2 linked regions of the Homo sapiens genome follow. The protein of the gene in region 1 purifies or fractionates together with the protein of each later gene. This does not show direct contact. Each region holds a gene or a part of one and is shown on either strand. Other genes may lie near its edges. The genes, in order: RBAK and CYP24A1.

Region 1 (3,824 bases):
CAGGAGGCTGAGGTGGGAGGCTCGTTTGAGCTCAGAAAGTCGGGGCTGCAGTGAGCTGTGATTGCACCACTGCACTGCAGGCTGTGGTGAGAACTTGACTCTAAAAATAAGAGAAAGAAAAACAAAAAACAAATGCCTTCCCACCAAAAAAAAAAAAAAAAAAAAAAAAGAGGCACACAGTCTATGCCATCCAATGTCACGTCCTTCTTGCTGTGCTTTTACAAGCTCAGCCAGCCCTCACCCAAAGTGTTTTTTTTTTTTCAATGGTGCAAAGTTTTGCTGACCTGTTTCTTTCACTCACTTACATCTGGGCTGTTAACTGTGTATCTGAGATTTGCTCAAATATTTAGCTGAATACTTTTAAAATAATTTTCCATCAAATCCAACTCAGCATTATATTCATTCACTGCCAAGAAAGGTCACCCCTACAGTAAAAGTTAAGATGAATCCCGAATTCAGAAATGCAAAAAACAATTTGTTTAGGGAAATATGAAATGTTACACATTAGCTTCTTTATTGAAGAGGCAGCTCAGACCTATTTATATATGCAAAAGTATAGGATGACAAAGTATGTAATGATTCTTTAACCTTCTCAAATATTTCACTTAAAATATACATTATGCTAAGCTTTAAGGACAGCGTAGGAAATCTTAGTAGTTGCCATCAAAATTACTATAAATATGTATTTCCTGCACAGAATTATGCAAAATCTGCCATTTAATTCCTGTTGTGCAGCATATTCATACACATCTAGAAAAATATGATTAGAGTGATGAGCGACACAAATGTTAGCCATTTGTGATTTTAGAAAACTTTTATGGAAAGTTTAACACACATGCAGAAAAATACACATATCTTAAGTGCACAGCTCAAAACACACTCAAATACTTAGCACCTAGGTTTAGAAACAGATTATTCCCAGCACCAGATAAATGCCCCCTTTCAGCCTTGGCCAAGGCTAACTGCTACCCTAATTTTAAACCACGTATACAAGTTTTGCCCGTCTTTATAATTTATATAGAAGGAATCATACAGCATGTTGGCTTTTGTGTCTGGAGTCTTTCATTCAGCAAGGTTTGTTAAATTCAGCTGCGTTATTACACGGACTTCTAGTTCATTCATGCTCACTGTTTTACAGTATTCCATGGACATATGCCACTTCTTTATTCATTCCATTGCACATGTGCCTTAAGATAGTTCTGTTTTGTGCAGTTTTAGGCTATAAATATTCTAGTGCATGTCCTTTGGTGGACAGACACATGCATTTTTGCTGGGTTTGGGTAAAACAGTATACATATGCTTGGCTTTTAGTGCCAGCTTTCAAAATGGTTTTATCGATGAGCAATTCCACCAGTAGTGTACAGTTCCTCTTGCTTACATCCTTGCCAAAACGTGATGCTTTTTCATGCTTTTCATTTTAACCATTTCCATGGATGGGTAGCAGTGCTACATGTTTTAAGTTTGCATTTCCCTGATTACTAATAAAGCTAACACATCTTTTCATGCTTATTGGCCGTCTGGATATCCTCTAAAGTGAGTGGATATCCTCTAAAGTCTTTTGCCTTTTCCAGTTTCCCCCTTGTTGATTTGTAGGTGCTCTTTACATATTCGAGATCAGGGACCAGAAAACTATGAGTGCAGACCAAATCCAGACTGCCACCTGGGATTGTGAATGGTTTTACTGGGAAGCAGCCATGCTCATTTTTTTTTTAATGCATGGTGTATGGATGCTTTCACACAATAGCAAAGATGAGCAGTTGTGACAAAGCTGAAAATTTTCACCATCTGGTGCCTTGCTTTATAAAGTTTGCCAACACTTCTGCTATACTCGGTGCTGTTGTCACATACATGAACTGCAAATATCTTCTCCTCCCCATGATTTCCTGTTCATTTTCTTACTGGTGGTCTTTCTGATAAATAGAAGTTCTCAAATTTAATATTAAGTTCTAATTTTATGGGTTAATGCTTTTTGGGTCTCAATAAACCTTTGCTTACTCCAAGATTACAAACTGTCCTAAGATTTCTTTGTAAAGCTTTCACATTTCATATTCAGATCTGCAATCCACCTCCAAATAACTTTTTATCAAATTACAAAATTTTATTGGCAAAGTACATTTACTGGAAAGAACACCCTTTCCCCCACTACACTTCAATGTCACCTTTCTCAAAACTCAGGTGATGGTATACACGTGGGTCTACTTTTGAATCTGTATGCTGTTCCACTAGTCAGTTTTTTCATCCTTGTGCCAAATTAACACCTTCATTATTTCTATGGCTTTATAACAGGTCTTGATATTTAGAAATTTCAATCCTCTCTGTCCATTCTACAGGATAGCCTTGACAATTATTCGACTTTTGAATATGCATATGAATTCTAGAATTAGCTTGTTAATTTACATTAAAGAACTTGCTAGGATTTTAAGGTTGCAATGAATTTAGGAAAAAGCAATAGTTTTGAGATTGTCCTGGAATCCTATCCCTCTCCTCCTTTGTAATTTTATTTTCTGGATACAGTTCTTCAAAGCATATTAACTCATTTTCTCCCTCTAGGCACTTGAGGGATCTTTGAAGTGGCATTGCTTTTCAAAATTTCATTTTCCATGTTTTTTGCTGGTATATCATAAAATGCTTTTTGCATAACTTTTATGCAGGGAACTTACCAAATTTACTCATGGCATCTGCAAATAGAGATTTATATTCTTTTTCGTTTTTAAAGTTTTACTTCTTTTCTAATCTCTATGCCTTTTGTTTCTCTTCCTTGCATTAGTTTTCTGGTTAGGTCCTTCTGAACAATGCCGAATAAAATCATTGACAGCAGATATCCTTGTCTTATTTTTATAATCTTAGGAGAAATGTTCACTATTTCATCATTAAGCATATTGTTTGTTGTAGTTTAAGTCTCTTTATGCAGTTAAGTAAGTCCCTTTCAATCCATCATTTGCTAAGATCATAAACGAACATTAATTGTACCACAAGAATGTTCTGCATGCCAGATTACTTTTCTACAGGTGGTGTATAATAGCAACTGACTTGTGAATATTAAGCCACCTTTGCATTCCTGGAACACAATCTATTTGATTACCATTTTACCTTTTCCCAGAACAAGTCCATCTTTGTTTTGTTTACCCAGTATCAGGTCATATGACCACTATAAAACAAGTTACTGGCAAAGAGAATGAAATCATTATTATTTTGACTAATCAGGATTCCCCTGTGTCATGTGAAGAAGTGGTAGGTACCTAAACTGTTCCAGCAAGAAATGGAGCGAGGACATTAAGTTAATTGATCAAAAAATATCTGCTAGAAACTTGAATCAATTTGTTCTGAAATACTGGGAAAAAGGAGAATGCACAAAACAATGACACTGTATTTGTACCAAACAGAAGTTTGTGAATAAAATTTCTAAATTACAAAATATTGGCACTAGGCACACTCAAACCTATGGGTTAAAAAACAAGGGTGGTGTGAGAGCTGGGGATATTTTAGAGTATGGGCAGTATGCTTGTTCTCTTTCACTGAAATAGACTTAAACAATTCCAAATTATGTATGTATAGTTTATCAAAATAGTCTTTTAGAAAATCTTATCTTACTCAGATGCAGTTGAAAACTTTACAAAACGACTGCCTCCTGTACTAATGAGGCATTTGTTAAAAACCCATTTGTAAATTCCTCTAAATAGAAAACTAGGTATTTTACCATTTTATACCTATTAAATATTATCTCACCAACAATATGTCCTGTCTTAATACATTTTGCCATCCTAATACTCAAATAAGAAAACTGCCTCTTCACAAGTCATCCAATTCCAAACTTGCATAGAATT
Region 2 (3,824 bases), on another chromosome or scaffold:
GCTGTGAGAATTAAATGAGATAACATTGTAAAGTTCTTAAGTAGTGATATTTGAGCTGGGTTTTGCAGGAGGAGTCTGAAAGCAGAGAAAGTGGGGGAAGGCATTAAGGCAGACAGAGTAGCCTTCTGAAAACAGGGAGGCATGAAATGACGTGGTGTGTTCAGAGAATCGGTCATTTAGTGTAGCTGATGTGAGGCTTTCTCTGAAATGATACTGGATAGGTCTTAACAATATTTTTGTATTATACTAAGGTATTTGGACATTATCCCTTAGCCAGCACGGAGTCAAAGGGAGTTTTAAGCATAAAGTAATCTCTTTTTACTTCTGTTCACTTTGGATGTTTATTTTGAACTGGATGCGTCCCCAGATGGGATCATATAGGTGAAGGATTGCAAACTCAGAAGCTTCCAGGGCTCACATGACTAATATAAAATAATAAGGCAGACCCAGTAAAAATTTCAGGAAACGTGATAGTGCATGCCCCTCCCAGGAGGGACAGCAGCCCCAGTTCCAGCAAACGAATGCCATGTCAGAATGCAGACCTCATGTCACCAAGTCTCATAATTATTATTTACATTTTTAAACTAGTAGTGGTAAATCCATATGTTCATATGAAACCTCTTGTTTTTTTTAATGGTAACAAATTCAAAGAACTTTTAAATGCGCTATGCGGGCAAATTAAACTTGCAAACTAAATCCACACATGTGGGCTGTATGGCCACACCAGCTCACGGCAGGGTCCAGGATGGCAACTTATCAGCTCTGTGTGCATAAGTGAGTGACTTGGCCTCTTTAAGCCTCAGCTTTCTCATCTACTACATGGGAAATGAGTAGAGACGGTACCTACTACTACTTGGTTGTCAGAGGATCAACCAATACACTTCGTACAGTGTTTGGTACCATATGGACCTCATTAAATGTGAGGCATTAGTTATTGAAAACTCTGGTTTATGAAACTGGCATCCAAAGGTCTTATGTGACTATCCCAAGGTCATAGACTACTTAGGGAAGGAGCTGTGTCCAGAATTGGTAGATCTTCTGGTTCCAAGTTCAACATGCTTAACATAACCACCAACCAATAAAGAGACGTTTGCTTGCCCAGATGTGGAAGGGCACACCTCAGGATAGCTGCTGCAACACAATCCTTGAGATGCTGGGCCAACAGGGACAGTTAGCTGATTCCTTTGTGGTTTTATTCCCCCATTCTGATTAGAAAAAAAAAATGTTTTCCTTTTCTTAAATTGCCAGAATTATTTTTAGATCAAAAGCTGAAACTTAAGCTTCAGGGTGGCTTCAGGAAAAGCTCAGGAAATAACCCAGGACGAGGTCATTAGGGGATAAGGTGGGTTCCCAGGGAGAATATATAATTAGTGTGACTTCAGGATGAATAACATTATGGCCAGTGAATATGCGATGTAGCAAGACCTGAAGTTAGCTCAGTGAGCTTTAAAGTTTTGTTTTCCTTCAACGGCTTTAAAATGTGTCTTTTGCGGTTGTTTTCTTTGAAGGTCTTGGCCGATTTTATGGGCAGAATAGATGAGCTCTGTGATGAAAGAGGCCACGTTGAAGACTTGTACAGCGAACTGAACAAATGGTCGTTTGAAAGTAAGTTGTCGTCACAGACTTGCTCACTGATTTTGCAGGTGATTTTGCGGATAAAACATGGCTCTTTTGACAACTCTTTTGTAAACAGGCATTATTGCTGCCTAGGGAAAGGCCAGAGCAGCCCTTTTAATGCTTCTTTTAGGTGCTTAAGTTATGCCTTGAACTATGGATTGTTAATGAGTCATACAACAAACATTTGTTGAATACTTGCTGTGTGTCTGGCACTGTGCTAGGTACTAGGGATATGACAATGAATGAAACGCATAACCCCTGTACCCTTGGGGAGCTTATATGCTAGACAAGGTGACAGTCAACAAGTAAACACATTTTAAAATATACTCTTCCAAGGAGTAAAGGAAAAGAGAAAGGGAGTTAAGAAAGAACATGAAAGGCAGGCATGGTGGCACATGCCTATAATCCCAGGACTTTGGGAGGCTGAGGTGGGCAGATCGCTTGAGGCCAGCCCAGGAATCTGAGAACAGCTTGGGCAACACAGCAAAACCTTGTCTCTACAAAAAATACAAAAATTAGTCAGGGTTGGTGGCACATGCCTGTAGTCCCATCTACTTGGGAGGCTGAGGTGGGAGGATTGCTTGACCCCGGGACGCTGAAGCTAAAGTGAGCCGTGATTGTACCACTGCATTGCAGTCTGGGTGACAGTGTGAGACCCCGTCTCAAGAAAGAGAGAGAGACAGAGAAAGGAAGGAAGGAAGGAAGGAAGGAAGGAAGGAAGGAAGGAAGGAAGAAGGGAGGGAGGGAGGGAAGGAAGGAAGGAGGGAGGGAGGGAGGGAGGGAAGGCAGAAGGGAGGGAGGGAAGGAAGGAAGGAGGGAGAGAAGGAAGGAAGGAAGGAGGGAAGGAAAAGAAAAAGAGAAAGGAAAGAAAAAAGAAAAGAAATAAAGAAGAAAAGAGAGAGAGAGAAAGAAATAACATGAAAGAATGAAAGAGGGGCAAGTCTTTTTTAGTAAGAAGACATTTGAGGTAAGTCCTAAAGGAAGGGAAGGAGCAAATCATGAGGGTACCTGTGGAGGATTGTTCCAGGCAGCAGAGAAGAAAGTGCAAATGCCAGGAGGTGGAAGCATGAGCGCCGAGTTTGAGGAACTTCAAGCTGCTGGTGTGAGTGGATCACGATGAACAAGCTGGGAGGAAGGGGAGCCTGTGAAAGGAGATGAGGTCAAAAAGAAGGCAGGTGTCCAACAGGGCACAGCTCATAGGTCCTGGCAAGACTTTACCTCTCATCTGACTCAGATGGGGCAAGTAAGGGAGGGAGGACATGACCGCTTTCTTCAAAGATTACTCTGGAAATAAAGGGCAGAGCTCACTGCCCATGGGGGTGCAAGAGGAGAGCAGGCAGCTGTGATCAGGTGGGACAGCGCCTGGCTGAGGACATTCAGGGCTGTGGGAGAATCTGAGAGGGCCACCTAAGCCGGACATGGCCAGGGGTCGCTTCACAGAGATGGTGCCCCTCAGCTAAGTCCTGATGGTTGAGTAGGAGTTCACCAGGTGAAAAGGGAGGAAGGAGAGTGTCCCTGCAGAAGAAGTGCGGAATGACAAGCATATCCTGTAACAGAGGCTGGCAGAGGGCCAGCAGCCAGCTCATGGAGGGCTGTATGAGCGGGAGTTTGAATTTTAGCCTGTAAGTAACCGGGAGCTGCGGGAATGTATTCAGCAGCAGTGTGATATATGGGCAGATTTACTGGGAGGATCACTGTGGCTGCTGATGGGAGGGATAGAAGGAAAACCTATAACACTTCCATAAATTCAAGGTCAGAAATATTGCCATAAATAGATAAATATAAGTAACTTTTTTTAATTACTTATTTGAGACAGACTCTCACTCTGCCCCAGGCTGGAGTGCAGCGGCGTGATCTCGGCTCACTGCAACCTCCACCTCCTGGGTTCAAGCGATTCTCCTGCCTCAGCATCCTGAGCAGCTGGGACTACAGGTGCACACCACCATGCCTGGCTGATTTTTGTGTTTTTTAGTACAGATGGGGTTTCACCATGTTGCCCAGGCTGGTCTCGAACTGCTGACCTCAGGTGATCCACTTACCTCAGCCTCCCAAAGTGCTGGTATTGCAGGCGTGCGATACCACGCCTGACTAACTTTTGTGTTTTTTAAGTAGAGATGGGGTTTTGCCACCGGTTGGTCTCAAACTCCTGACCTCAGATGATGCTCCCACCTCCACCTCTGAGAGTGCTGGGATTACAAGCATGAGCC

The links.
Region 2: the proteins of RBAK (region 1) and CYP24A1 purify together in Homo sapiens (affinity purification with mass spectrometry; one large-scale study listed by BioGRID and IntAct). This does not show direct contact.

What each region holds. Positions count from the first base shown.
Region 1 is NC_000007.14:5,066,142-5,069,965, reverse strand, and holds the end of RBAK (RB-associated KRAB zinc finger protein), read right to left. Parts: 3' UTR 479-3,824; downstream 1-478. UniProt on the Homo sapiens protein: May repress E2F-dependent transcription. May promote AR-dependent transcription.
Region 2 is NC_000020.11:54,167,373-54,171,196, reverse strand, and holds part of CYP24A1 (1,25-dihydroxyvitamin D(3) 24-hydroxylase, mitochondrial isoform 1 precursor), read left to right. Parts: intron 1-1,508; coding exon 1,509-1,605; intron 1,606-3,824.